Regions from separate parts of the Homo sapiens genome. Here all the other regions are reported to be linked to region 6. Evidence: microRNA targets listed by miRTarBase, many of them from high-throughput screens and not tested one by one. Region 6 holds a microRNA gene; each other region holds the end of a gene's coding sequence.

The links. The annotated mature microRNA hsa-miR-411-5p reads UAGUAGACCGUAUAGCGUACG and lies in region 6 at 3,111-3,131, opposite strand. An mRNA with a match to its seed (bases 2 to 7 or 8) in the 3' UTR can be bound and repressed. Matches are read on the target gene's strand: a 7mer-m8 pairs with bases 2 to 8, a 7mer-A1 pairs with bases 2 to 7 and ends in A, and an 8mer does both.
Region 1: miRTarBase lists RAB3B as a target of hsa-miR-411-5p. Seed matches in the 3' UTR shown: 7mer-A1 at 1,623-1,629, 7mer-m8 at 4,554-4,560 and 7mer-A1 at 4,917-4,923.
Region 2: the mRNA of RWDD1 is a reported target of hsa-miR-411-5p. The part of its 3' UTR that is shown has no 7-base or 8-base seed match.
Region 3: the mRNA of UQCRB is a reported target of hsa-miR-411-5p. Seed matches in the 3' UTR shown: 7mer-A1 at 3,414-3,420 and 7mer-m8 at 2,629-2,635.
Region 4: miRTarBase lists GNE as a target of hsa-miR-411-5p. Seed matches in the 3' UTR shown: 7mer-A1 at 3,909-3,915 and 7mer-A1 at 3,580-3,586.
Region 5: the mRNA of ZNF621 is a reported target of hsa-miR-411-5p. The part of its 3' UTR that is shown has no 7-base or 8-base seed match.

The regions. Positions count from the first base shown.
Region 1 is chr1:51,915,719-51,920,792 of GRCh38, reverse strand. RAB3B (RAB3B, member RAS oncogene family) reads left to right here. Exons shown (of 5, transcript NM_002867.4): 5 at 679-5,074. The coding sequence ends at 866. Among named protein-coding and RNA genes, the nearest start is that of NRDC, 40 kb to the right of the region's middle.
Region 2 is chr6:116,592,096-116,597,169 of GRCh38, forward strand. RWDD1 (RWD domain containing 1) reads left to right here. Exons shown (of 7, transcript NM_015952.4): 7 at 885-5,074. The coding sequence ends at 1,006. Among named protein-coding and RNA genes, the nearest start is that of RSPH4A, 22 kb to the right of the region's middle. RefSeq lists silencers at 4,778-5,074, 4,828-5,028.
Region 3 is chr8:96,226,843-96,231,916 of GRCh38, forward strand. It overlaps UQCRB (ubiquinol-cytochrome c reductase binding protein), which reads right to left. Exons shown (of 4, transcript NM_006294.5): 3 at 4,932-5,074; 4 at 1-4,290. The coding sequence ends at 4,213. Among named protein-coding and RNA genes, the nearest start is that of UQCRB-AS1, 5.9 kb to the right of the region's middle.
Region 4 is chr9:36,212,935-36,218,008 of GRCh38, forward strand. It overlaps GNE (glucosamine (UDP-N-acetyl)-2-epimerase/N-acetylmannosamine kinase), which reads right to left. Exons shown (of 12, transcript NM_005476.7): 12 at 1,507-4,666. The coding sequence ends at 4,431. LOC124902151 (a long non-coding RNA gene) reads right to left here and starts at 1,077. Exons shown (of 2, transcript XR_007061474.1): 1 at 352-1,077.
Region 5 is chr3:40,532,624-40,537,697 of GRCh38, forward strand. ZNF621 (zinc finger protein 621) reads left to right here. Exons shown (of 5, transcript NM_198484.5): 5 at 1-5,074. The coding sequence ends at 467. Among named protein-coding and RNA genes, the nearest start is that of ZNF621, 10 kb to the left of the region's middle.
Region 6 is chr14:101,021,397-101,026,470 of GRCh38, reverse strand. MIR411 (microRNA 411) reads right to left here and starts at 3,146; the gene lies at 3,051-3,146. It overlaps LOC124903407 (mucin-2-like), which reads right to left. Exons shown (of 5, transcript XM_047432049.1): 5 at 1-5,074. It overlaps MIR379 (microRNA 379), which reads right to left and starts at 4,405; the gene lies at 4,339-4,405. It overlaps MIR299 (microRNA 299), which reads right to left and starts at 2,677; the gene lies at 2,615-2,677. It also overlaps MIR380, MIR1197, MIR323A and MIR758.

The sequences.
Region 1 (5,074 bases), not on the chromosome of region 6:
CCAGACTAGAGCTGGCCAGCCTAGGGGGAATGAGAGGCAGGGGAAAGAGGAGGAAAATCCCTGCGAAAAAGTCCAAAACCTGGGCTTCTCATACTGGTGCTTTTCCTTATCTTGGGCAAGCTAGCTTACTTCTGTAAGCCAGTGTTTGTATTAGTGAAGTGGAGAGGATCTGACTGAGACTCCTTCCTCAGGGGCAACATGAAGATCAAATAAAATAATCTATGTGATAAGTGCTTTGGAAACTGTAAGGTGCTGTGGACACACGTTTATGCATTTGCTCTGTCAGCAAACACTAATGACCCCCTCTGTGTCAGGCACAGGGTTATATATTTCACATACATTGTCTTGCCTGATCCTTGAAATAATTCTATGAAGTAGGTAAAATTATCCCTTTTTACAAACCAGGAAATTGATTTGTAAAGAGAATAAATGACTCAGCCCGGAATTAAACAGCTGGGCGGTGGTAGAGCTAGGATCAGTCTGACTGAAAGACCAGTGCAGGAAACTCCTGCCCTGTACCGTCTCCTTGAAGCAGAATCCCATGTCCGTGGAATTTAGCCTCTTTGCTTCACTGCTGAGCACTGGACATATTAATCCAGAGTGCTTGGGCTGAGGGCACAGAAGGGTTCCAGCAGAAGGGATGGGAAAAGTCCTTATCTGTATCTCTCCTCTTTCCAGGGTTTGATTTCTTTGAAGCCAGTGCAAAGGAGAACATCAGTGTAAGGCAGGCCTTTGAGCGCCTGGTGGATGCCATTTGTGACAAGATGTCTGATTCGCTGGACACAGACCCGTCGATGCTGGGCTCCTCCAAGAACACGCGTCTCTCGGACACCCCACCGCTGCTGCAGCAGAACTGCTCATGCTAGGCAAGGCCCACCTTCCTGACCTCCCCTCATTGTGGCCCCACACCCAGTCTGCTTCTCCCTGTTACACACTGTCCGCTCTCAGCCCACTCTCCCTGTTACACACTGCCCACACTCAGAGCAAGATGAGTTGCTGCTATTCTTTGCCTGCCCCTGGGGTTCTCTGCAGATGGTCCCAGTAATAGATACTCAGCACTAGACTAACATAACAGGTCACTACACGGGTGCAGAATCACTTTACAAAAGAAGACTCTGTTTTACGAAGGGGATTCACTACAGGGACTTAGAGAACAGTCTCTTTTCTGCCTTTAAAATGAGAGTTCCTCCATTTACCAAAATTTGACACGCACACATTCTTCAGGGGCATGCCAATTGCGTAAAGTGAGGCTCGCCTGCATAGCTAATCCTGTTAAAGACAACTTCTCAAAGCACAACGTGCTTGTTTCCTATCGGGCTCCCTGCGGGGCTTTCTCTCACTACAAGTCAAGCTTGGGCTCTCAAAGCCCTGCGCCTGTTACCACGGATGCCCACAGGGCCTGGGCAGTTGCTGTGGCGACAGGAAGAGCTAATCTTCAGAGAGCTCAGACTCTCTAATGATGCTGAAGGAGCAAAGGCTGAGTCAGAAACACACTTAAGAGAAAAGGATTGGCCGGGCGCGGTGGCTCACGCCTGTAATCCCAGCACTTTGGGAGGCCGAGGCGGGTGGATCATGAGGTCAGGAGATCGAGACCATCCTGGCTAACAAGGTGAAACCCCGTCTCTACTAAAAATACAAAAAATTAGCCGGGCGCGGTGGCGGGCGCCTGTAGTCCCAGCTACTCGGGAGGCTGAGGCAGGAGAATGGCGTGAACCCGGGAAGCGGAGCTTGCAGTGAGCCGAGATTGCGCCACTGCAGTCCGCAGTCCGGCCTGGGCGACAGAGCGAGACTCCGTCTCAAAAAAAAAAAAAAAAAAAAAAAGAGAAAAGGATTATCCCCTACAAAATGTCAGAGGTTCCTGCTATATGAAAGAGCAAGTAGGTATGCTCAAGAAAGACAAACAGAGAAAAAGAGAAACAGGCAAGATCAAGAAACAGATCATGAGTTTCTGATTTTGCTGCTTTCCAGTTGGTTCTTAACTGTGGGAACTTAGTGAAATTGGTTATTAGTTCTTAGACTCCTAGAACCTGAGGATTTTAGATTTGACGGGATGCCCAAATTTACCTAGTCTGACTAGTCAGTTCTAACCTTCCTTTTTCTGACAAGTGACTGTCAAGCCTAACAATCAAATCTCTTTCTTTTAAAGCACACCTTCTAGGCAGGGACAGGAGCTCATTTTCCACACCATCTTTGTCAACTCTCATAGAAAGTTTTCCTTGTATCGAGCTCAAATCTGCCTCCTGGAAATTCTTCTTCTTCTTCCCTCCCTGTTGGTACCAGCTCTGCTGTCAGAGACTTCACAGTCTGTGCTCCCTCTGCCCTGTGACGTCTTCAGACTATTTGAGAACAGGAATCATGACTCCTGGGACTTGCCTTTTCTCTAGGTCAAATACCTCTATAATTCCATCTGCTGTTCTTCATAGGGTCTTCTCCCTATCCTGCCCTTTTCCTCCAATCCATCTTTTAACTGCTCTTGAGCAGTCTAACTGAGAAGTATGATTCAAAGCAAAATAAATCTTAAGGTGGCATGACTCTGAAAAAATTGAGAAAATTGAACTCAGAGATCCCGATCCCAACCCCTTTCTCCTGGGAGTGAAACCTTAGTTTCTACCAGAGAGTGTGGGAAACCACTTCTGGTGGAAGCCCCTTAATTAAATACCTGAGGAAAAAAATAAAAGAAACTCAGAGACCAGAATAAATTAGCTCATTATTCTAGCTTGCTTGGCCACAGGGACATATTTTGTTTTGGCTGAAATAATGACATGGAACTGGCAGTGATTCCAGAAAACCTTTCTTCTCTATCATGGCCTGAATCCTCAGCCACCTCAAAAGTCAGCGGGCAGGAGGAGTCTCTCGCCAGTTTTCTTTTCATTTCAAATGAGGCTCATTGTCCTAGAAAAGTAATTAACTAGCAACCAGTCCAATGACTAAATAAAAGGACCATCCAGCTGTGGCTCACACCTGTAATCCCAGCACTTTGGAAAGCCAAGGCAGGAGGAACACTTGAGGCCAGGAGTTTGAGACCAGCCTGGGCAATGTGGTCAAATTCTATCCCTACAAAAAAAAAAATTAGCCAGATGTGATGGTGCATGCCTGTAGTCCCAGCTACTTGGGAGGCTGAGGCAGGAGGATTGCTTGAGCCCAAGAATTTGAGGTTGCAGTGAGCTGTAATTATGCCACTGCATTCCAGTCTGGGTGACAGAGTAAGAATAAGACCCTGTCTCTCTGTCTCTCTTTCTCTCTTTTTTTTTTTAAAGGAGTCAGCTCTACAAAGATGTTGCTTTCTTTGATGCAATGCAGAGAGCAGAGCTTTGGACTTGGAATCAGGAGACCCGGACTCTGTCATTAAATCAACTGTGACTCTGGGCCAGTTACTTTCCACTTTTGAGTCTTGATTTCCTACTTATAAAATGAGGGAGCTTATTTGGATGATCTTTAAGGTCTCTTTTGGCACTAATAACTCGGTGTCTCTTTTTTTTCACCTTCACCATTTCAGTTGATCCACCAAACAAACCTGAGAGATCAGGATTGGCATCCAAGAGTTGTCTCGGCCAACTCTGATGTCATGCTTACTCTGTACTAGACATTGTTCCAAGCATTTTACGTGCATTAACTCATTTATCTTCCCAACATCTTGTGAGGGAGGCACTATAGTGAGCCTCATTTGAAGATGAGGAAACAAAGGTACAAAGAGGTTCTAGCTGGACCTCTAAAGTCACATAATAAGTAAGTGGTAGAGCTGGAGTTCACATCCAGGCAGTAGGCTCCAAGGTCTGTGCTCTTAACCACATTCTGGGCTGCATCTTTTATAGACAAACTATGATCCAGAGAGATTACGAGACTTGGATCACATACCAAGAGAGTGTTAAAGCCACATTAGGATTCAATTCCAGGGCCATCAGATTCCAAGTCCACTGGAGAAAAGATGTATATCTCTAATCTGTTAACAAATTGCTCAACTACTCAGACTAATCCCAGGTGATGGATGTCTAATGCTCAGGAAAGGCGAGTCAGTCTCTGAGGCAACAGATCCCATGGGCCTGGGTAGAAAATGCCCAGTGCTTCCCAGTCCCAAGTGCTGGCTTTCCCTGTATCTGCCTCTGCCAGGCAACACTTATCAGGCTCCCAATCAGCAGGAGCCTCCATGCTCCACTTTGAACAGCCTCTATGCTCCAGCAATGGGGCATTTGTGAAGAGTGACTTGATTAACTTTTCTGACCATGGGTATAATACAGTTGCTTCAGAGGGCAGTGGTTCTGGGTGTGATTTTTACACTGTAACATTGTATACAGTGTCATGGATAATTACTATTTTTTTCTGGTCATTAACACTCACCTACTCTAGTACTAGGATTTCAGACCAAGGTCCTCATGACGCCTGGATATTTTAGTATCTATATCCAATAATCTTTTCTCTCCTACTGAATATCCAGGCAAAGATGAAATCGTTTTCTTTAAAACTGTCAAATTCTGTAAAACTCAGGAGCCAGTTCAAGGGAACAAGCATCTTCACAATAGATGGAATCAAGAGTTAAATGTTATAGTGGCAAGCTTGTCTACTGGGCAACAGACAACCAGACCTGCTTGTGAGATGGCAGCTCCCCAGCCCTGCTCTGTGACCTCATTTCTGTCAAATGAAAGGCAGCAGCTTCCAGCTGATTGCAGCATAGTGTTCATCAATCACAGTAATAGCGCAATTAGCCACCAAGGTTCAAGCTGTGTAATATGTGTTAGTGGCAACTTGTCCTGGATTTAATCTTCCTCAACAATCCAAATAAAATATTTAAAAACTCTTGACTTCTGGCTGGGCGCAGCAGCTCATGCCTGTAATCCCAGCACTTTGGGAGGCCGAGGTGGGCAGATCACCTGAGGTCAGGAGTTCAAGACCAGCCTGGGCAACATGGTGAAACCCCCATCTCTACTAAAAATACAAAAATTAGCCAGGCGTGGTGGTGGGCACCTGAAATCCCTACTCAGGAGGCTGAGGCAGAGAATCGCTTGAACCTGGGAGGCAGAGGTTGCAGTGAGCCGAGATCGTGCCACTGCACTTCAGCCTGGGTGACAGAGCGAGACTC
Region 2 (5,074 bases), not on the chromosome of region 6:
CATACAATTTCTCTCCTTAAAATCCTTTGATGGTTTCCACTGCTTATAGGGAGAGAATGACCTACACAATCTTTCTCAAATCTGGCCCTCATCTACGTTACTTTCAGGTATTTTTTCTCAGGAATTTCATCTTCCAGTTAGAATTATTCAAGGTCTTATATTTTCTCTCTGCCTTTGTGTATACTTCTACCTAAAATTGCTTCATCCTGGCTCCTTTTCTTCTTGGTGGATTCAAATTTATCATGAAGATATTTCAGACTTCATTTGCTCCATGATGCCTTTGCTATGTCTCCTAGACAGAGCCAGTTATTCTTTGGCCAGGACTTAATTGTATTACCTACTTCAGACACACTGAAGAGTGAAGATGTTTAATGCAGAGCCTGGGTATTGTTTCCTGTAGGCTTTAGACATTGTAACTGAAGGCATACCATTGGCTAAAAGGGGAACTGGGTGAGAATGAAGATCAAATCAAATCAATTAATTAACAAGTATGGCTGAGCTTTAACGATGTGCTTATCTACCACTACTGGAAGAGATAACTCCTCATACAGGTCCCATGATCAGTGATAATCAATTTTCTATAACCAGGAGAACATATTATCCTTGTCTTCAACATATAAATGCTACATTATAAATTCTAGTAAGCTTTTTTTAATAACTGGATTTTTAGACTATGAACTAGGAACATGAAGTTGCTCTTAAAATTTCAGAGTCTCTACTGACCAATGCAAATCACTGTTGATAACTGTAGTTTGGGATTTCATCACTCCTACCTCATATGCAGATTTGGAGATTTCTGTTTGGTAGTGCCAATGAGTTTTATCTTCTATTTCTGAGTATAAGACTAAAGGAGATTTTTTTTTTTTTTTGGTTGCCTTTTGCAGCTGGAAACAACGTGGAGGTAGATGAGTCTTTGTTCCAAGAAATGGATGACTTGGAGCTGGAGGATGATGAAGATGATCCAGACTATAATCCTGCTGACCCAGAGAGTGACTCAGCTGACTAATGGACTGTCCCCATCTGCAGAGAGGCTTGACTGCCACAGCATCTGTGGCTATGCTCAGAGGGTTATGATTTTCCTTTCTTTTTTTCTAAGAAAAAATTATTTTCAGGAGAATATTCTTCTGATAGCTTTCATCATTGAACTTAATAAACTGACCTTAAAATTTCAAATATAAAATGTTCAAGGCTTCTTACTGTTGAGCACAAGGTTACGTATTTAAAATCACCTAGTATTTGAGAGAGATCCTGCCTATAGCACCAAGACTCGAAGGTAGGCTGCTGCTGTGCACATGAGTTTATACACAGGAAATTGGAATAACTTGGAATTTCTATGCTGGAGACTTTGGCTACTTCTGGATTTCAAGCATTGTATGAAGTGTGAGAAAACTGAGGTGACTAGCACATTAAACCATCCAGATTCTAGCCTCCAGGCACACTAAATTTAAGTCTTGATAAAACCAGGAGGCCATATTATGATCATAAGTAAGATGAAGTTTAGCCTTCCTTTTAGTCCATTTTGTATTGCCGTAAAGGAATATCTGAGGCTGGGTAATTTATAAAAGGTTTGCCGGGTGCGGTGGCTCACGCCTGTAATCCCAGCACTTTGGGAGGCTGAGGCAGGTGGATCACGAGGTCAGGAGATTGAGACCATCCTGGCTAACACGGTGAAACCCCGTCTCTATTAAAAATACAAAAAATTAGCCAGGTGTGGTGGCGAGCACCTGTAGTCCCAACTACTCGGGAGGCTGAGGCAGGACAATGGCGTGAACCCGGGAGGTGGAGCTTGCAGTGAGCCGAGATCACGCCACTGCACTCCAGCCTGGGCAACAGAGCAAGACTCCGTCTCAAAAAAAAAAAAAAGGTTTATTTGGCTCATAATTCTGGATGACCAGAAAGTTGAAGATTGGGTATCTGCATCTGGTGAGAGCCTCACGCTGCTTCCACTCATGGTAGAAGGGGAAGAGGCACTATGTGTGTAGAGATCACATGGCCAGAGAGTGAGGGTGGAAGTGCCAGGCTTTTTTTTTTTTTTTAAACTAGCTTTGGTGGGAACTCCCTCACCCCTGCTCCCCACAGGAAGGCATTAATCTATTTATGAGGGATCTACCTGCTATAACCCAAACACCCCACCAGCCCCCATCTCCCAACACCACCACACTGGGGATTAAATTTCAATGTGGGATTTGGAGAGGACAAATATCCAAACCATAGCAGTCTTAAAGTATTTAAATTAGAATTTAAATTAAAATTTAAATTACAGTATTTAAATTAGAATCATTTGTGGAGTTTCTAAAAGGTATGCATTCCTAGGCCCCTCTCAAGTTAGATTTATGAACACTGATCCCCAGTCTGAATTTTAAAACAGCAAAATCTCATACTGGTTCTACAGATTATTCTGATGCACAATCTGGGTTAAGAACCACTGTCCTGTAGTCGTGAAGTCTATATATTTTGGTATTTTCTTTACCTCTTCTCTAATTAACCAGTCTGAAGGAGTTTGAATTTTGGGGATCGTACATTGTCTGCAAGAGAAACACATTAACATCCGTGCACATAGAGTCCTTTGTAATAATTTGGGATGATTGACTTGGTGGCTCCAGGTAGGAGAGCCAGTCTTCATGCAAGTTATTCAGTCACTACAGTTTTGGAGGACTGACTCTTAACCCCAATAGGAAATCAGTTGTGCTATTTTAAATTCATAAAGCTATTATAAAGAGCTGCCTCCAGTAAAAAATACATATGCCACATACCCACAAACAGCAATATTAAGCCTTCATTTATTGTTGGAGTTAGACCTTATAATCAAAAAGCAAATTATTTAAGATAAAATTACCATTGAGGAGTTTAATACTTTTCAAGGAATCTTCACGTCAGCCTTGATCCCAGACCAATAGAATGGAATAACAACAGGAATGTTCAGCATTTCTTTGCAGAGAGAAATCCAAAAGTTTGTCCTATGTGAGATTTTGCTTTTCCCATCTTTTTGAAGCTGATCAGCAGATACATAAGAACCTGGAAGAAGCTGCTCAATTAAGGTTAAAAAAAATAAAAAGCAATTGTTAGCAATGTGGTGCTGAAATCAAGACTTAACTTTGAAGTGTCAAGAATGATAACCTCCCATCCACTTCATGTGATTTTTAAGAATAAATTTTATATATTTCTCCAGGTATTAAAGTGGATGTCCACCTTTGCCATTTCAGAACCTAAAGGCAGAATCTAATGGTAAAATGAAGACAACCTAGTTGTCTTCTAATAACCTAGTTAGTTCTAATAACATTCTCAAATATTTTCATCTAGAGTAAATATTTACTGTTGGCTTTGTATTCTGGGAATTAGCCCAAGACTATGCTGCTCAAATGGGTGCAAATATACTCTCAGGTTGCAATAGCATGACGAGTGGTATTTGAAGCAATAATTGTTCCATCTTGGATTATCGGTTTTGCTCTTTGATTTGGTAAAGTTTTTGTTTTTCTACTCGTGCCAGTTGTATTAAAATGTCACTAGGTTAAAAACAAACACAGATATGTTTATTCATTACTGTATCCCTGTAATAATGCCTGGCATGCAGTAGGTCCCTAATATTTGTTGAATGAATGAATTATAGAATAGAGTGCAAAATTAATTCTAATGTATTTTAAAGTAAAGCATGAGAGTTCAAAGAAATGTTGTATTTGCCATCTACAACTTGGAATAATGTTCCTTGATCCTGCTTTACTTCATGCACTTTTGCCAGCAGAGGTGGATGCCTTAGGGAAAAAGTTGGATAAATGCTGATCTAAGGCAACACGTCTAAATGGTTATGTGAACATTTCCCAGTTGGGGTAAAACTAAGAGGAGTGATAATAACATCTCATCAATTTAAAGGACAAGTTCACTGATCGTACTGTCATACTCCAGAGATACATGTGCCAAGAAGCAAAGAGATGCACTCTTGTATTCCAGAAAGAAGATGATTTGTAAGTGTTCAGTATTTGTGTGGCAGCCCTTTTAGGTGTAATGAAGTGTAACAGAAAAGTAAGTGAACTACTTCACATAGCTCTTAATGTTTGTCTTTCAGAGGACATACGAGTCAGGCAGCAAAAGTTGGAGCCATTGTATGATTGTGTGTCAAAATGAGAGTCACACACTTCAAGAACTGTAGGAACTAATTTTAGAAAAAGACTCTTCAGAACAGATGACACATGAAATGTGAGTTTATGTAAACATGTAAATTTGAGTAGCATTAGTTTGTTTTCTGTTTAGGAACTGTATCAGGGTGACAAAGATGAAAGAATGCTGCCAGAAAAGTATATTGTTAAATTTTCAGGCCTCCATTGGTGAAGTTTCAAGTAACCTTTCACTTAAGTTACTTGTGTCAGAGGATGGATGATGGGGTCATTTAAATTGTTGGACAAAGCCATGAAAGGACTTTTAAAATTTTGTCATAAAAATAGCCAATGATGTTTTTAATTTTACATCTAAAACTAATTTGCATTATCCTGTGTTAGTGACTGAATCTCAACTCAGTCCTCATTTTTTAGTTCAACTTTTGACAACCTTATATTCATTGACACCATGGACAGCACAGTAAAAAAATACACAAATTTCTTTTGCAGTTATTGATTTGGAATGATCACTTTAAAAGAGCCATCAAATACGCCTACATATTGAGCCACTCTTTATCATTAAGGTGAAAAGTTCATTCAATTAAGGTATTTGAGTGCTACTATGCGCCAGCCTTTCTTTGTGATAATGTTAATTTTTTTTTTCCTCCCCTCCATGAAGGGAAGAAAAAAAAATTAATTCGGCCATGAATTTTAATATTCTGGCCAGCACCTTATCCATTTGTAGCCACGCCAACAAATTTATTCTGTGATATACCAAACTTACAAAGTCACTCTGCGATTTCAGTAAGGCCCATTCCCAACATGAGTGCTGCTGTCCACGGTACTGAACCATCAATGCTAAATGGTATTTAGTTGTGGATCTTCATCCTGTCATGCAGCTAAATATTCCAGGAATACTGAACCAAGTGAGGAGAAAGATAGCAGTGGGTTGCTGCAAAGGAGGTGAGGGGAGGGGAGAGATAGCA
Region 3 (5,074 bases), not on the chromosome of region 6:
TCTGGAATATTAACAGGCTTTCTGACATCTATGCTAAAAATTAACCACCGTATAATGATTCAGTTCTTCTTTCTTGCTCAATTGCTAATACAATAAAATTTCTTAGCAAAATATAACTTAGAGGCACTATCCGACCTGAGATCTCAGATTCTAACATGTTATGGCTTTTAATATGAACGCCAGTATAACCAGAATGTAAACAAATTATGGCATATAAATTAAAACATTTAAAATATTTTAACATCTATAGACTTTATTAGGTGTTCCTTATACAGTCATCTGGTATGTTTAAAGAGTGAGCAATCATATAAAAGGAAATATGGTCATAACTGATTGAAGTAATAAAATCCTGAAACTAAATAACATCTCATAATTCATTGCACAACATATATTAGATTTCATTACATCAGTATATAGCTTAGTAGTAAATTCTCCTGATGGCCATAAACCTCTAAGGTGTTGTCATCCTGAAAAATGAAGGAGGGGAGGGAGTTGGTGGGGCGCAGAATGGAGAAATCTTCCATAGTGCTCGTGTGATGTACACTAAGTTGTAAAGTTATAGGGCATCGCCACCTAGTGGCAGAATTTCATGCCTTGTTCTAATAAAGGGATTTTCCTTGTTTTCCAAAGAGCAACCTGTCTTACTCACTTTCTAACCATCCCTCTCTGATACTGTCCCTCCTAAAATCCATGCTTCCTCCCATACACCATAAACCCATCTGCTCTTCATCCATCAAGCTGTCAAGGATTTGGTTATGACAATCTTCATGTTCACCTAACTTTTTAATTCCAAGTAGTTTGGTTATTTTCAAAGCTACACACAGGATGCCCATATTTTTAAAACTCCATCCTATTTGTGAAGGATTATTACTTTGGGCTTTGGCCCAGTTTTTATTCTTACTGCTGAATCTTTTCATAAGTCAAAATTAGTGCAGAGTTAATGCTTGAAAAGGGAGTCCTTAAAGTAAATAACTAAATGAAATCACTACCAAAATGTACACTTTGGATTTATTAAGATTCTAGAATTTAAAAACAGGAAAAGGTGCCATTAGTAAAAACTCCATCACTAACATTTTGGTACCACTCGTAGAGCGTCACATAAATATTCAGACCATGATAACTCAGTGCAGGAATGTTATCAAATATTTCCATGCAATCTGGAACTAGGACCACAGCTGGCAATTGGGGGTCTGAAGGCCCGACATCCCTTACGCTGCTTCCTACATCTTGACAACAGGAAGGCCAAGTGATACTAGGTAGTGCACTACAACAGTGAACATAAGCCAGCCATCTGTTTTTTTGCAAAGTATAGTAAAACAAACAAACAGAACATAGACCACTTCAGAGTAAACAAACATAACTTTCTTCAAGATGTAGGAAAACTGTATATTCAAAACCAATCTCAAACTTTAAACAACAAAAGATATCAAACATTTTAAACTGTACAAAGCAAATTAGCAGGATTTGAATATTGGCAGTTTTAAAATGTCACCCATCCAAAACACAAAACAGGGAGATAGCCAAGTCTTAGCTCCATCCTAATCAAAGCTGTCATGCAGATCCAGTTCCACTCTTCTCATCTCCAGCAGGTACTTCACTCAAGGAGGTGACACCCAAGGGGAGTAGATGAACCAGAAACAAGAGTGCCACATAGAAGGAAGAGAGGAGACCTTGGACCTTAGCTACTGGTTAGCTATTCGACATTGATGATATTCAGCGTTTTCCCAAGTTATTCTTTCTCGCTTCTCAGCACATAATTTACATTATGCATACTATATGCCAGAAACTGTTAGTGCTTGACATGCAGTCAGTTAATTTTCACAACTGGGTGAAGTAGGTTTCTATCATTAGCTCTATCTTAGGGACAAACAAACTGAAGCACGGAGAGGTTAAATTGTATTCCTAAAGCACTACACAGTGAGCAAATAGATTCAGACCTGTGCAGTCTAACCCAGAATTAGCTCTGAATCACTCTACCATTCGGTCTACAGGACAATGTAGACCAGACTACAGGACAATGTAGATTTGGTCTACAGGACAATGCAGAGTGCCTGTGTTTCAGGCACTCTCATGGTGATTTTCCACACAGGACGGCTTTTGATAATAGAAAGGCCCTCTCTTTCAAATGAAAGGACTTCACTGATGGATTAACAAATTCTCACCCATTCACCTGTGTGAGCCAAATACTAGATCTACTTTCTTAGTCTTCATAACAAGCAGGACGATAACCATAATTTATAATGAACACAAAACATTGATCTAGTGTTCAAAGAACTTTTGCACACTTGTTCTCATTTAGAAGAATGAAGTAATCTGGAAACATAGAATAGGCATACACTTTGGCTTTAGGAAGAACTCTTACAAAATCAGAGGTTGCCTTATGTAATACCACACTTTACCTTGAGCAGGTGGATAGCCTGGGGGTTCCTGTTATACCTCAGTCTTGGTCAGTTCTATTTGTTCCCCTGTCCTTCAGCAGTGCCCTTAGGCTTGCTTTAAACATTAACAGCATTCATAAGCATGGTTTCTAGGGTCAGAGCCCAGCCTCCCTCCACCCACCCGGCTCCCTACACACCTTGACAGTGCTCTTTGAGATGCCTCAGTTGTAGTCTCCTTGTAATTGTGCACAGTAGACGTCTGAACGAATAGACCAGAGTCCTGCAAACGTGATCTTGAAATCACTATTAAAAGAGCCTTTGCAGAGATCTACTCAGGAAAATTTTCTGAATAGACAAATGCTTTTAAAGGGGGTTCTAGACAGCCCATCTTCTTGGCCTCCTTCTGCAAAGTAGGACTACATTAAAACCTTGTCACAATGTGACCTGAGCAAAACCATTATCAAGTGATCTAGTTGTCTTCAACCATACAAAAGAAAATTGACATGATTTCAGGATAGGTTTAGAAAAATAACGACCAGCGAAAGGAAAAAAAAAAGCGGGGGAGGGGGTTCCTAGAGAATTTAAGAGGCTAATATTTTAGCAAAAATTTAAAGATGCTCTTTATGATACACACATTTCTCATTGCTTTACAAACTTTAAATGTAACACAAATTCGTTTTTCACACTGTTTTGTTATTTGAGGTAAGGCATTCCTGCCACACACAGCAATGACTTGTCCTGGAAAACCAGGGAGGCTGCAGGTCCTACTGTTCCTTCTCTACTAGCTGTGGCTCCACACTCTCACCTCTACCAAAGAAAGCATTTCAGAATTTAGGAGTGGAAATGATGACAACATTGAATAATCCTAATTTTTTTTTTGAGACAGTCAATGTCGCTCAGGCTGAAGTGCAGTGGTGTGATCTAGGCTCACTGCAACCTCCACCTCCTGGGGTCAAGCAATTCTCCTCCCTCAGCCTCCCGAGTAGCTGGGATTACAGGTGCCTACCATCACGCCTAGCTAATTTTTTGTATTTTTAGTAGAGACAGGGTTTCACCATGTTGGCCAGGCTGGTCTCAAATTCCTGACTTCAGGTGACCCGCCCGCCTCGGCCTCCCAAAGTGCTGGGATTACAGGCATGAGCCACCATGCCTTGCCAATGATTCTAATTTATATTTTTAAAAATTACCCTATAATCTTAAAACTTTTAACTGACTAGTATCCAACCCTTAAACTTCATAACAATCATTTCCAAAGTGGAAAAGTCACTGGGATATGGGGACAGTATGATTTGTCTTTATACTTTTATTTTTCTAACATCTTTTTGTTTTCTAGTATACATGTTAGCACAGGAGTATGTATATTACTTAAGTATGCCTATGTTGGGGTGCAGACATAATTTCTTTTTAAATGATAGGATGCAAAATCAAATCTGTTTGCATACCAGTGAAGAGGCTATTTCTCAATCTTGGCAAACTAGGGGGTGCATACCCCCTTCTTTTATTCAGTAGCTTCCATAAGGATGTAACTTACGGAAGTTATATCCTTCCATAAACTGATAGGCTATCCAACCAGTGAGGAAAACTGATAAAGTGGCTTCTGAGCTCCAAGTAGCAGTTAAACACAACTAAATATATCTTGAAAGTTTGGAAAAAAATTTAACAGTAAAGGGATTCAGTAGTTATTCAGTATAAGGTTTGGAATTCAAAAACTCCAGCCATTACAATAGACATTTATTTAAAGTAAAACATCTTCAGACCAAATAATTCTTAAAATTGTTTGTTTCAAGTTTAACCATCTTCATAACAGCTGCATCCACAGACTTCAACTACATGATTACTTCTTTGCCCATTCTTCTCTTTCTTTTCTTTCCCGAATAACCTCTTTCAGATACGGTTCAAGGTAGAAATTTTCCTAAAGAATGAATGAAATATTATATGTTACCATCACGTACTGATATATCCCAAACACTCAACAGGTCTTCAATAACAAGAAAAAAGCAATTACTTTTGAATTTCCAATTTTAGAAAACATATTCTCAACCTAAGAACTATCTGCTTTTTAAAATGTCAAATCTGTGGTGATGGTGTGATAAGTTGCTTTGATAGGTTATGAGGGGGAAGTCTTTTCGGGAAGAAAAAGAAATGAATGTCCACAGGCCTTTGCCTAGTTTCAATGCAGTTCAAGGGGTGAGAGTTTGCTTCACAGAAGCTCTTCTTGGGATCTGGAGGGACACTCAATGGGCTGATCTTTTCATCTAAGTAGGAAGCAGAGTGCAGAGCTGGAACAGCAAAGACCTGGGAGGCAACAGACCTGGATTTTAGTCCTGGCTCTCTATATTAGAGACTTGCTTAGTAATTTCAGAAGAATCATTTCACACGTAAGACTCAATGTGGTTTTCTTCTAAAACGGAAATAACATTTGCTTTATTAACCTCACATATTTATTTGACATGACTCAGAGAACTCTAACACTATGCAAATGAACATGTTTCTCTTGTTTCTAAAACTCCATCCTTAATGAGCAACACTGTCAGGTAGATAAAGCTGTGCTACCTCTTCATATTTGGTCCACTGCTCTTTAGGCAAGATCTGATGCTTCAAGTTCAGGTCCAGTGCCCTCTTAATGCGAAACATCCTGTCATTATAAAGGTTCTCAGGAAGTCTTCTTATGGCTTCTTTTACATCTTCATCCTCGT
Region 4 (5,074 bases), not on the chromosome of region 6:
TTGAGGTAAACTGTAATACTATGCTCAGGATGGGGGTTAGGTGTTGCCATTGCCAAGAAGGAAAGGCCACTATCTCTTCAATGTTAATTATTTTTGGCTGGAAGGAGCTTTCATTACTTTTCCTGCTACCTCCCCGTTTCCAAGCTTAGTTGGGCTTTCCTTGACCTGGCCCACATTTCTGGCCTCTGCTTATTCCTCCCCCTTTAGTCAAATCTTATTACAATCAAGCAATCATTGTTCCCAGACTTTTGTTCCTACGGGACCTGCTAATCCCATTCCAAATGTCAAAATCCAATTTAAGAACTAGTTCAAAGGCCACCCCCCTTCCCCTGAACTCCCATGGCCATCTACCTGGGGCAGCTTATTTTTGGTAGTCTTGGTGCCATCGTCTGGACCAGTCTTGCCTCCCACACCAGCTGGGCTTCTTGAGGTGGGAGGTGGCAATTTTAAATGTCAACAAAATCTGTGACATTCTCTAGATGGAGAGGTGACTGAATAATGTGACAAAAGTGATGCTGGGATGACTTCCAAGGCTAGGTCATAAAAGGCAGTGCTGCTGATGGTTGATTTGTTGGAGCAACTAGCTGGTGGCCCTGAGCCGCCTCATAAAAAATTCTACCTTTGAAGCTACCCATGTGGTGAGGAAGCCCAAACTAGCCCACAGAGAGGCCACCTGAGAGACCCTGTAACCACACACATTGGGAGATGCCTGGCCAGCCAGCCTCGTGCTATTCCAGCTGACAACTACAAGTGCAGGATACTCTTGAGCTACAACTGTCAAGTTTGAGCCTTTCCCAAATCCTGACCCACAGAAACCACGACGTGAAACAATTACTGTTGTTTTAAGCTCTTCAGTTTTGAGGTTACACAGCAATAGTAATTTGGGATTGTTTCTAATGCCTGTATGAGACCCACATAGGGCCTCATAAAAAGAGGGAGTGGGTCTAGGGACTCAGTAAATGCTTAACACTTAGTTTCAAACCTCTTTCTTGGGGGCTACTTTGCTTTTTTATGCCAAATTTTCAATGTTATATATAGCAATGTTTTGTTTTTGTTGTTTTTGAGACAGGGTCTCACTGTGTCGCCCAGGCTAGAGTGCAATGGCATGATCATAACTAACTTACTGCAGCCTCCACTTCCCGGGCTCAGGTGATCCTCCCACCTCAGCCTCCTGAGTAGCTGAGACTGCACCATGCCTGGCTAATTTTTTTTGTATTGTTTTGTAGAGATGGGGTTTTGGCATGTTGCCCAGGCTGGTCTCGAACTCTAGGGTTCAAGCAATCTTTCTGCCTCAGCCTCCCAAAGTGCTGGGATTACAGGCATGAGGCACCATGCCCAGCCATGCTTTCTATTAATAGACTTTTTTTGGTTAAGAAAGCAATGATATTAGAGGCCTTAAGGAAGTTATATAACCTTCAAAACGTAAGCAGTGCAACAATTAAATCTCTTCTGGGAAGGAAAATGCTTTTGGCTAATGAGTTACGAACAAAACAAAATACAACAGGATTTCAACAAGGAAATGTATTTATTTTTTCTTTAGAATTTGGCTCAGAACAGTAACAAAAATATTTACATTAAAATAAATTAACATGCAATTACTTAACCATATGTAATAATTTACGTTGGAATATATTAGCCTTCCCATGAGTTTAATAAAAACTAATATTTGGTTTTAGATTCAATACCATCCTTTCAAATATTTGGTATGAAACTTGGTAGCAATGCAATTGTCTGATGTACAGAGCAGATTTCACCATGAGAGATTACACCAAAGAACAGATGTCCCTTCCCAGAACATTATCTCACCCCAGACTCAGAAACTGAGCAGCCAAGCTTCCTTCCCAGGAATCACCATGGAATGTCTGAACAATAACCAGGCCCTGGAGATTACTGCAGGGCTGGCAGAGTTTTAGGAATCAGCCAAACTCTTTTTCACACTAACCCACTAGGAAGGATATAGTTCAAATGTAATGTTGAGTCCTTCAGTTTATTTGAACACTGAAACAATATGTTGTAGAAACCTTCATTTTCCCAAAATAGAAATCTGAAAGATATATGCACATGATTTCTTAGATCATCTAAAAGTACCCATAAAAACCTGTCACTAGGGCCAGGTGTGATGGCTTACACCTGTAATCCCAGCACTTTGGGAGGCAGAGGCGGGCGGATCACCTGAGGTCAGGAGTTCAAGACCAGCCTGGCCAACATGGTGAAACCCTGTCTACTAAAAATACAAAAAAAAATCAGCCGGGCGTGGTGCATGTGCCTGTAATCCCAGCTACTCAAGAGGCTGAGGCAGGAGAATCACTTGAACTTGGGGGGCAGAGGTTGCATTGAGCCACTGCACTCCAGCCTGGGTGACAGAGTGAGACCCGTCTCAAAAAAATAGAACACCTGTCACTAGACCAAATACTATACTGGTAAAATTTCACAGCAGAGAGGAATATTTCATTAAATTCAGCTGATAGGGTCAAGGATACATTAAGTCATTTACAAATCAGATATTAGTATTAAAGTTTTTGGTGGCCTAGAGTGAATTAGAATATGTTAGCATTTTGAAAGTGTTTTTGAAATGAGAGGTTGTGTGGCTCAGCAGCAAAAGCACAGAGGGACCTGGGATCAAACCCTCTCTCTAGCCCCATAGCTTAACAGTCAAACACACCAAGTTCTATAAAATAAAAATTAAAACACCTACCTCATATGTTGAGATAATTTAGGATAATGTATATGAAGCACCTAGTTCAGAGCCTGGCACACAGTAGGCACTTAATAAGTGGTGGCAGTTAGTATTTCTTCCAAGTTAACAATTCATAGCCAGAACTTTGGCTTTTGTATTTTGACACCAATGAAAACACGAATCATGTAGACAGAATCCTGATTCATGGCTCTGGGCTCTAGGTAAAACTCAAAACTTTAATGGACACCCTAGGGTGTTACTCAACACAGTATGAAAGGCTACTGAAGGAAGAAGTGTCTGCTGGTCAGTAGCAAAGATCCTTTTGGGACAGTTAATCTCCTTTTAAAGGCTCTAAGTCCCAGTGGCTTCTCAGCTGTCCTAAGAAGATAAGGACAAGGTCACTAAGGCCACTGTAATTTAGATCCCTGGTCTAAAGTCTCTTGTAAGTTCAGCTAGAGTAATAACATCTTTCAACAAATGGTATCCAGGATTAGGGGGGATATCTGAGATGGGGGAGTGATAGATATGTCCAGTGTCTTGATTGTGGTGATGCTTTCACAGGTATACATATGTCAAGGCTTATCAAATTGTAGGCTTTAAAAACAATAAAGCTGTTTTAAAAAAAAGTGTACTTAAGCCCTTCCTGGTAAGATTTCCCTCTGTTCTCTGACTGGATCACCTTCTGTGATCTTAGTTTGGGGTTAGAGGAGGAAGGATGTGTGTGTGTGTGTGTGTGTGTGTGTAGACGGAGTCTCGCTCTGTCACCCAGGGTGGAGTGCAGTGGCATGATCTCGGCTCACTGCAACCTCCGCCTCCCGGGTTCAAGCAATTCTCCTGCCTCAGCCTCCCGAGTAGCTGGGACTACAGGCACATGCCACCACGCCCGGCTAATTTTTGTATTTTAGTAGAGATGGGGTTTCACCATGTTGGCCAGGCTGGTCTTGAACTCCTGACCTCAGGTGATCCGCCCATCTCGGCCTCCCAAAATGTTGGGATTACAGGCGTGAGCCACTGCGCCCAGCTGGAAGGATTATTATTATTATTATTATTATTATTATTATTTATTATTATTATTTTTGAGATGGAGTCTTGCTCTGTCACCCAGGCTGGAGTGCAGTGGTGCGGTCTCAGTTCACTGCCAGCTCCGCCTCCCTGGTTCATGCCATTCTCCTGCCTCAGCCTCCCGAGTAGCTGGGACCCGCCACCACACCCAGCTAATTTTTTGTATTTTTAGTAGAGACGGGGTTTCACCATGTTTCACCATGTTAGCCAGGGCGGTCTCGATCTCCTGACCTCGTGATCCGCCCGCCTCGGCCTCCCAAAGTGCTGGGATTACAGGCGTGAGCCACTGTGCCCGGCCTGGAAGGATTATTAATGCAAACTTCAGGATGAAGTGATATCCCAGGCAAGGCCTGAAGGTCTCAGTGGTATTAATACATTAGTAAGCAGAGTTCTAAGAAGGCTTCCTCTCTATTATTGTAGCTGCTTTGGCACAGAAAATTGTGACTGTAACTTACAGGGTTTGAGCTAAAATGACCCCTAGTAAGAAGACATCAGAAAGAATAGCATCTACAAAAATAGGAGTGGGGAAAGGTGACTCTGGAAGAGGAGACCAAAAGTGAAAACATTTCTCTGCCAAAGTCACCTGCAGTTCAATACCAGATTTGATTGTTAAGAAACGGTCATCCTAAAGACAAGAACTTGATTCCACTCAGGAGCTCTGGAGAGAAGGTCCATGTCTGTTCCTGGAGGTCTAGTAGATCCTGCGTGTTGTGTAGTCCAGAACCATGCTGGCAGCACCCAGCAGGGCGGGGTCAACCAAATCCGAAACCACCACATCCACGTCCTGCACGGAGGACAAGGCCTGCTGGCGAATGACGTCTTTGACAATGTGGATATAGTGACTGGCCAGGACTCCGGAGAGGATCACAAGGGAGGGATTCATGGTATGGAGGATGTTCACAACCCCAAGACCCAAAGCTGTTCCAGCTATAGGGAGACAAAAATTAAAATGAGTTTCTGAGAGAAGCCAAAATCAAAATACCAAAGAGGAAGGCAGAAAAGAGCCAGCAGCAGAAATGTTAAAGAACATCCACGGCATGCAGTGGGAGGCAGTGTTTTAAAAGCAGTTCACGGTTGATTCTTAATATGAGAAAATGATCATGTGACAGCCTCAAGTGGAAAAAGCCGGGTGTACCACATGATCTCCACTAGGCAAAAAAATGAATAGAAAGACTCGAAGGAAATGTTAATAGTTGATACCTCCAAATGGGAAAACTAAGTGATATTTTTTCTTACAACTGTCCTATATTTCTCTAAATTTCCTGTAAAATGAAAGGAGCATTTTTATAGTTGTCAAACCAAACCAACCACCTGCTGAAAAAGGCAATGCTGCCA
Region 5 (5,074 bases), not on the chromosome of region 6:
ATACTGGGGAGAAACCTTATCAATGTAAGGAGTGTGGCAAAGCCTTCACCCAGAAAATAGCCTCCATTCAGCATCAGAGAGTTCACACTGGGGAGAAGCCTTATGAATGTAAGGTGTGTGGGAAAGCCTTCAAATGGTATGGAAGTTTTGTTCAGCATCAGAAATTGCACCCTGTGGAGAAGAAGCCAGTCAAGGTCCTTGGGCCATCCCTGGTCAGTCCCCAGTGCTCCTCTCCAGCCATACCTCCTGTTCTTCTCCAGGGATCCTGTTCTGCTTCAGCCGTAGCTGTGCCTTCACTGACCTTTCCACATGCTGTGCTCATTCCTACCTCTGGGAATTTTTTCATGCTGCTGCCTACATCTGGAATACCTTCTTCATCTGCCCAAATAGTGCGTGTCTTCCAGGGTCTTACTCCCACTGTGAAACCTTCCCCAGTTATTCTCACCCCTTCTTCTCACTCCTCATGAGCTTTATCTTGGCAGTCTTACGGCTCTTATGCCTAGCAAATCTCCAGCCTAATTTTATATATTTTTTTGAGAAAGGGTCTTGCTCTGTCACCCAGGCTAGAGTGCGGTGGTGTGATCTTGGCTCACTGCAACCTCCCCCTCCTGGGTTCAAGCGATTCTCCTCCTTCAGACTCTCGAATAGCTGGGATTACAGGCACGCCTCACCACGCCCAGCTAATTTCTGTATTTTTAGAAGAGATGGGGTTTCGCCATCTTGGCCAGGCTGGTCTCAAACACCTGACCTCAAGTGATCCGCCTGCCTTGGCCCCCCAAAGTGCTGGGATTACAGGAGTGAGCCACTGTGCCCAGCCTCCAACCTAATTTGAGTTTCATTTGTATTTTTTTCATCACCTTACATGTGTTAACAGCTGTTTCAACATAAACTCCATTATAATCTATATACATTTAAAGACCGTGTTTACATAATCTCTTCTGGGTAGAAAATGGAAATACTTAACCTTTGCATTGGTCCCTTTCAGGCTTGAACAACAGTGGCTGTATCTGCATCGTGGGGTTGCTGGTGGTAGAACACTTTGGTGTTAGGAAAGTTTGGAAAAGAGGATATCCCTGTATTAGGCCATTATGATTAGAGATAAGCAGCCTGGGAGAAACATACAAGACCTGTGGCTACTGGTAGAGAATTGGAATAAGCTTCCAACAATGGACTGTAGAGATTAATGGAGATTGTTTAGTGGGCCCATGGCTAGGTGGGGTATTAATACAGTTGAAGTTATGTTGCCCTTGGCACAGATCTTTGAGAATCTCATACATCTGTGAAAAAGATAATGTGAAATAAACAGTAAAAAAAAAAAGTATGTTGATGGCAGTGAGAGTAATCATGTCTTTAAACGTGAAGTTTTTTTTTCTTTAGTTTTGCTCTTGATAGCTAGATGTTTCTTTTAACTTTTATTTCGTAAGTAAATATACACAAAGGCATTCATCTTTGTTGAATCTGTTGTGCAGATTTTTCTTGATGAGCATTCTGTTTTTTTTTCTTTGTGAGCACTGGCTTCTATATTTTATTTCATATTTATGAATTATAAATATGAATTTAATTACTAAAGAAATAAAAATAATGGTGTAAAGCCAACTCGAGGGGAATCTGAATAAGCTTCCAAAATTTTTTTTTTTAAGAAATAAAGGGAGCTGTGTAGTGGGTCAGTGGCTAGGTAGGTTAGTGAAGTGGAATTTGGGGTTGCTCTTGGAAGTGGCCTTGATGAGGATCCTTTACAACTATTCAGAGGACTGTGTGAAGTAGTTACTGGAAAAAGAACTTGAATTATGCATTTATTGGCATTAATGTAAACAGTAAGTCCTAAGCTTTGATGGAAGGGTCCATACATTTTTTTTTTTTTTTTGCTGATGTTGCTATCTAGATGTTTCTCTATAGCAATTAATAGCAAAACCTTTACATTCTTGGTTTTTAAACTTTACCATGTGTCTGAATTACATAGTGTGCTTGTAAAAAGAAGAGTTTTCTCTCTTGCACAAATTCTGATTTTGGCTATCTGTGGTGATGGCCAGATCTTTAGCATGGACCATACTTTGAGAGATATGCTTCAAACAGAAAATGCCCACCCCTCCTCCTTTACCCAGCATAAACTCTATGGTTAATTCTTAAAATAATGCCTTACAGTCTCCATTAACTCCCTTGCCCTTCTCTTGCTTTGTCATGCTCGCTTGGCAAAACCTCATCTCTGACTAAATGCAGTTCTTTGCCTTCTCTGTTCCTGCACCAAAAATGATCAGGAGAAAGCATATTACCAGGCTGAACTGTCACTTTAAATTCATGACCAGTAACTTCATGGAGGCCCTTAACGTTTCCTGATGGTCATACTACAATTTTTGGAGTCCACTTAACTCCCCTGCTTTCCTAGGCCACTACTTTATACTTTCTCTCTTCTGTAACTTCCAAAGCATCCCTCTCAGTTCTCATGCTCAGCTGATGGTTATGTTTCTGCCTTCGGCGAGAGAACAGCAAGCTCCAGAAAGTGGCTGCGCCTTCAGCCCCGTGCTAGAATGAGAACATATGGAGCCAACTTGAGTTCGGAAGGGCTGTGGCCACCTCGTTTCGCCCATCTACTTTTCACCTTGCCGTATCTGATTCTTCACCACCGTATTCTCAGTCACTTCCACTAAACAGTGCCAGTGTTTTAAGGTTCTGTCACACTCAGTAACCCACTTCTGGTTCCTCATTCCGTGTCAGTGATCAGCAGTAGACTGAAGAATCTACCTTAGATTTGCTCCATACTATTAATTAGCTTACAAAATGTCTAAGAGGAGCTAAGCTGGGATGCCACATAGGCAGAAGCCAGGAAAAATGACCAACCACAGAACCAAGTGGTTCCAGTGGAAACTCAGCAGCTGCTGGTGCCTGCTACTGGACTGCCACCCCCCATTGAAGAGACTGGACCACCAGGAAGGTCGTTTCACATTCTGTAGTAAAAATACCCCTACAATCATTTTGGTAGGGTCTTCTGTCTTCAGCCAGGGTGTACCTGCTCGGTGGGAGTTGGTTATATATGTATGTCCAAGTTGCAGGGGCTTCTGGGAAATACAGGTTTTGGATTCTGCCTGGGAAGAGAGTCATAGTATGAAGAAGTCTGAAAATGGGGAAGGGATTTTCAGAATATGTTGAGCAGCTGTAAAATATCAGATACCCATTATAGGCATTGAAGGTTACCTAAATGACAGAAGGATGCACTATATTCATGGGTAGGAAAGATTAGTTTCATCAAGATTTCAATTTTTATCAATTCATAAATTAAAAACAATATAAAAATTCCAGAGGGGTGTGTGTATAGAGAGGCAAAGGACACAGAGTAGCTAACCTAGTTTTGAAGAACAAGATGGGGGGTTTTATGCTACCAGATATTATATACAATGATCATCAAACACAGAACAAAGCAAAAAACAAACTCCCCAAACCCAAGTTGAAACAAAAAAAACCCCCAGACTGTAATAGTATTATTATTATTTTTTAAGATGGAATCTTGCTCTGTTGCTCAGGCTGGAGTGCAGTGGTGCAATCTTGGCTCACTGCAACCTACACCTCCCGGGTTCAAGTGATTCTCTTGCCTCAGCCTCCTGAGTAGTGTGTGCCACCACGCCCAGCTAATTTTTTAATTTTTAGTAGAGACAGGGTTTCACCATGTTGGCCAGGCTGGTCTTGAACTCCTGGCAGCCTCAAGTGATCCACCCACCTCGGTCTCCCAAAGTGTTGGGATTACAGGCGTGAGCCACTGCACCTGGCCTGTAACATGATTTGCTGAAATTTTTAAAAATCTTAAATAATGTACTGTTTAGAAATATACATATTTTATACAAAATTATAAAGAAAGCATAGAGAGGTAAGCATTAGTGGCACAGCTGAGAAAATATAAAAGGTAGTTCTGTCTCTATCCTGTCTCCTTTATTCTGCTACTGCTCTCATTCTGTCTCATCCCAGGAATCCAGTCCCAAGTGCTGCCTGCCAATCGTCCAGCACCCTCCACCTTTGCCACCTATTTCTTGTTGTAAAACAGATGTTTGTTTCTAAAATATAATGAATTAATGATTATCAAAGTACAGGCATACCTCATTTTATTGCAGTTTGTTTTATTGTGTCTTGCGGATATTGCATTTTTTACAAACTGAAGGTTTGTGGCAGGCCTGTGTTGAGCAAGACTATCAGTGCCATTTTTTTTCAACAGCATGTGCTCATTTCATTTTTCTGTGTCTTACACAGAAACTTAAAATATTTCAAACTTTTCATTATATGTGTTTTGGTGATTAGTGACTTTTATGTTTCTATTGTAATTGTTTTGGGGTGCCACAGACTGCATCCATCTAAGACAGTGAGCTTAGTTGATGTGTGTGTGTGTGTTCTGATTACTCCACTAACTGATGGTTCCCCATCTCTCTCCCTCTCCTCAGACCTCACTATTCTCTCAGACACAACAGTATTGAAATTAGACCAATTGATAACCTTACAAACACCTTTAAGTGTTTAAGTGAAAAAGTCACATGCCTCTCACTTTAAATCAAAAGCTAGAAATGATTAAGCTTAGTGAGGAAGGCTAATGTCAACAGCTGAGATAGGCCAAAAGCTAGACTGCTTCTGCCAAACAGTCAAGTTGTGAATGCAAAAGAAAAGTTCTTGAAGGAAATGAAAAGTACTTCTCCAGGGAACACATGAACGATAATAAAGTGGCCAGGTGCAGTGGCTGACACCTAGAATCCCAGCACTTCGGGGAGCCAAAGCGGGAGGATCCCCTGAAGCCAGGAGTCCGAGACCAGCTTGGGCCACAAAGTGAGACCCCTGTCTCTACAAAAAATTAAAAATTTAGCTGGGTGTGGTTGTGCATGCCTGTAGTCCGATCTACTTGGGAGGCTGAAGTGAGAGGATCCCTTTAGCCAGGGAGTTCGAGACTGCAGTGAGCTATGATTGTGCCACTGCACTCTAGCCTGTGTGACAGAATGAAACCAAAAAAAGTGAAACAGCATTATTACTGATATGGAGAAAGTTTTAGGGGTCTGGATCAAACCAACCACAAATTCCCTTAAGCCAAAACCTAATCCAGAGCAAG
Region 6 (5,074 bases):
CCCCAAAGCAAGGCTGACTCCACCAAAGGTCCTGCTAAGGACCCAGTGGAGACTGAGGTGTGACGGGCCAGGCGACCTTGGTTGTAAATTAAAGTGCATACACTCAGGTCAGCTGATCACTGGAGGACTTTGGGATGGTATAGACAGCATGCCCCTTCCCTTGAACTTGGATGCCTCCACATCTAGGAAGCCCTCCAAGGAAAGAGATCGGAGTGAAAATCAGTCCAACTCAGCCACATTTGGCATACATGTCGCAAACGCCTCGCAGATGCTCTCTTCAGAGTCTAACAGAGTGCAGCTGGCCCCAGTTTACTGTCTCTTTCCCAAAAAGTTGACACCTCTTCCAGGAAGTTCTCCAAGGGGGCATTAGATACTGAGGGTTAGTGGACCAGGTCACAAACGGCACAAATAAAGCGTGTGCTCTCTGGTCAACCATCTCATGTATCCAGGCACGTGCTGACACCACGCTCCTTGTCCGCAAGTTAACCCTGCTGCCAAGCCAGAGCAGTGTGCTGAGAAGAAGGCTGCCACACGTGAGTTATCGTCACACACAAGACAAACACATCACAAACCCCGCTGGGTCACACTGAGCGCAGACCTAGTGGCCCCCACCCCCGCAGTTGATGTTAGCTCCAGGAAAGCTTGCAAGGCGGGATTAGATACTGCAAAGAGGTCGACCGTGTAATGTGCGCCATAAATAAAGCGAACGCGCCACGGACCACCTCTCTCCAAGTACCAAGCAGCAGCCGTACTGACACCAGGACAGTGGCTCTTCCGCAAAGCTGATATCACCTCCTGGAAGTCTTCCAAGGCGAGATGTGATATTGAGAAGAAGTAGACCATGTGTCCTACGTCACAAATAAAGCGTACACACCATGGTCAACCGCATCTTCAAATACCAGGAAGTGACGCTGACCCCTGGCTCTCTTCCTTTCACCTGCTATCACCTCCAGAAAGCCTCACAATGCGCATCATGAACTACCAGCCACCGGCAATGTGGCAATGACCACAAACCCACATCCAATGCCACTACCACCTCCAGGATGCCCTGTAAGGGTGGGACCGGTACTGAGTTCTTGGCTGGTGGACCAAATGGCCAATGTAATAAATAAAGGACTGGGTCTGCAGCCAACCACCCGGTGACCTGCACTGCACCCTGGCTACCACTCAGGCCTGGCTCTCAAGTCGGCATGGCCTCCGGGAAGCCCCAGGGCTGGCTGATACTGAGAATGAGTGGACCATGCTACATCTGTCATTCAACAATGCATATGCTTTATGCTCTACCATCTCTCCAAGTACTGTGGAATGGCGCTGAAGCCAGATCAGTGTGTCTCCCACGAAGGTGACTTTGCCTCTCTCTGGGAAGCCCTCTATGACTGAATTTGATATTGAGAAGATGTGGACCATATTACATACGACACAGAGATAGCGCATGTTCTATGGTCAACCATCTTTTCAGGTACCTTGGAGAGGGCTGAGGTCAGAGCCGGTGTCTCTTTCCTCTCACTAGCATCACCTCCAGGAAGCCCTCTGAGGCCTGATGTAGTATTGAGAAGAGGCCACCATGCAATGTCTGCCGCAGATGCAGTGGACGCAGCACAAAGGAGCCCCTCAAGAATGGAGATGATGCTGGAACTAGTGCTATGACTGACACTCGTTCCTGCCTACAGAAAGCCCCCCGAGGTGCACGCTGTTATAGGAAGGTGGACGAAGTAACATGCGTTGTAAGTAAAACATATGAAGCATGGCCAACTTCTACTAAGTACCCCGAGGCAGTACTTGTACCAGAACTGGTGCTTTGTCTCCTAAGCTTAACATAACCTCCCTGGAGACTTTCCAGGCTGAATGGGATACTTCAAAAGAAGTAGACCATGTTACATACGTCATGGGGAAAAGACATGCAGTGTGGCTGAACCCTTTTCAGGTACCGTGAGGTCAGTGAAGAGGCCAGAACCAGTGCTCTGTCCCTGAGGCTGGCAGCTTCTTCAGCAAGTTCTCCAAGCAAGGGTTCTGGGATGGAGATAGGGAAGAAGTGGGCCATGGAGGCACTTCCTCTGTAAACATACACGATGGGGTCGAGCAGCTCTTCATGAGGATCAGTGCTGAGTCCAGAGCTGGGACATCTTCCCCCGAGATGGCTAGACTTGAGATGGAAAAAAGATAGACTGTACACGCATCAGCAAAGACAAAAACGAGTCAGTGCGTCTTCAAGTACCTGGAGTGGCATCATCTCCTGGACCCATATCTGCTCCTACATGGGCGTACTGTCCTGAAGTCATCTGAGGAGGGCTCTGAGGATGAGAGGTGACCTGTTTCACATCCCTCGTTCATGAACATTTGCGGCACCAGCCACCGTTTCTTCAATTACTCCAGAGGGATGTGCCAACGTGGGCAGTAGGACACCTTCCTGGAGGTCATCCTTGTCCTGAGGAAGTCACTGGAGGCTGTGTTTGGCACTGAGGAGAAGACCGCATCACAAGCATTGACAGAGAAAGCACACATCTAAGAGTCTACCATTCCACCAAGTGCCATGGCATGGCGGATGCCGAGACCCGTGGCTCTCCTCTAACTCCAGGCTTTCTCCAGGGAGGTTTGGATGGCTGGGCTGGATACCAAGAAGCGGTTTACCATCCCACATACATATTCAAAATGTATGTGGGACGGTAAACCATTTCTTCAAGTACCGCACGATGGTGGTGGTGGTGGCTGGAAGAAGGCTCATGTCCACGAAGTTGCCTGAGGGCGCTTCTTCTAGGCTGCATTTGACGCTGAGAAGAAGCAGGTCACGGTGTCTACTGAATAAGCGTAGCGTAGTCAACCACGTCATTGAGCACCATGGAATGGCACTGATTCCGGGAAGAATCAAGGTCTCCTCCCCAGGGATGGCGCGATTTCCCAAGGCAGAACTTGATTTAAGAGGAGCGAGATTATGCCATTTTGCATCATGCAGAAAAACACATGCCATACAGAAAATCATCTCTTCGGGTGTCATGGAGAAGTGGTGGTGGGTCCAACCGTTCCTCCCCGAAGACAGCGTTGTTTCCAGGAGCCTCGGGGATGGATTTGATACTGAGGGTTAGTGGACCGTGTTACATACGTCACAGATAAAGCGTACGCTATACGGTCTACTATCTCTCCAAGTACCACACAGAGATGCCGAGGACAAAGGCTCAGGACACATCCAGAAAGCCCTCCAAGGCCTTGAGCTGGGTGGAACCAGAAGGGAGGTTGAGCACAGCACATGCATCATGCGACAAGCACACACAGGCCAGGAGTCTCGTCTTCATGGTCGGGGGTTGACATGAATGCTCGAAGCAGTGGCTCATCCCCAAAACTGGCAACTCCTCCAGGAAGCCCTTCGAGGCCGAAAGTCCCACTGAGAAGAAGTGGACGATGATATGGATTTCATCACTCCATAAATACTGATTAAGTGCCTGCTGTGTGCCAGGCGCACTGTGCTGGGTCTGAAGGAGTGGGTAGATGGGAGGGAGGACATGGCACATGGCTAACAGAGCTGGTTAGGGGAGTGGGGAGAAAATCAGAAATACAAAATGGCCCACGTGCAACCAAAGAACATCCATCTAGTTACACTAACCAGGCCAAGGAAACAGTACTGGGCACCTGAGGCCCAGATCTTACCTATTAGTGAGCTCTAGTCTTGGGCATTAAAAAAAAAAAAAAAGTGCCCTAAGGCCATATCTGCCTCAATACCAAGGGCATTTCCAGGAGGTCCTCTTAGGTTGGATTAGATTCTGAGCAGTAACCACCATGCCATCTTCATGAACAAAGCAGGAGTTGTTTTGGTCAACCACCTCCCTAAGGACAGAACCACTGTCTCATTCCCAGACTTGGCACTGCCTCCGGAAAACCCTGAGACTGAATGTAAGATTGATCAGAGGTGGACATTGGTATAAACAGAAAACTTCAACACAGGAAAGCAACTCTTCAATGCCACACAGCGGAATGAAGGATGGACTGGTGGGTCCCCCTGAAGGTAGTATTGGCTCCACGAAGCCCTCCAAAGCTGGCAGGCTACTGGGAAGTGGTAGCCCATCTCACACAAATCCCTCCTTTCGCACAGGCCACATGGCAAATCATCTCTTCCAGAACCACGGCTGAGGCTGGAACCGGTGTCTTGAGCCCAAGTTGCATCACTTCCAGAAAACTCCCCAGAGAGTGCATTTAGTGCCCAGAAGAGCCAGGCCTTGTTGCACAAGTCAGACATCAACCATGAGCCACAGAAATTGCCGTGGAGCAGTGCTGAAGCTAAACCACGTGTTCTCTTCCCTGAAGTTGGCAACACCTCCAGGAAGCCCTCCGAGGATGGATTGGATACTGAGAGTTAGTGGACCATGTTACATAGGTCAGAAATCATAACGCCTACGTTCCATAGTCTACCATCTCTTCAGGAACCACGGAATGGTGCTGACCCCAGAACCAGGGCCTTGCCCCTGAAGTTGGCGTCACTTCCAGAAAGCTTTCTGAGGCTGGATTTGGCATTGGAAGCAGGCACATGGTGAACATAAACAACCCCTCCTCCAATGTGGGGCAGTGGCATTGATGGGGGAAGGGGTGCCTCTACCCTAAGTGGTAATTCCTCCAGGAAGGCCATGTCAACTTGGAAAGACTGCGACAAGGCAAAATGTACAATACTGACCATGCTTTGGCCATTATGTGGTCAACTATCTCTTCATCAAGATAAAGGGCAGTGTTTTGTTCTGCATGGCAAATGGGACACTCCAAGAGCACAGTTCATCATATAAAAGGGGACCCTCAACCTCTAGGTAAAAACTTCCCTAGCTCACCCAAGTTCCGATGGTCCTCGCCATGCTCTAGACCACCTTTGGAGACTCAAACCACAGAGCTGAGTGGGCAGTGCGTTCCTCCAGCTCCTGATTAACCTCTCCACCTCCTTCAGGAGGTCTTCCTTGATTTTCTCCATCCCCTTTCATGGCACAACTATCCCATGTGAATGGAATGCAAAGCAATGATTTGTTAGCCTCCAGGGAAAGGACAAGGGCAGAACCCTCAGCAGCCCTGCAGGACAGCTCGGTTGTCCTCTAAAGTCCTGAAC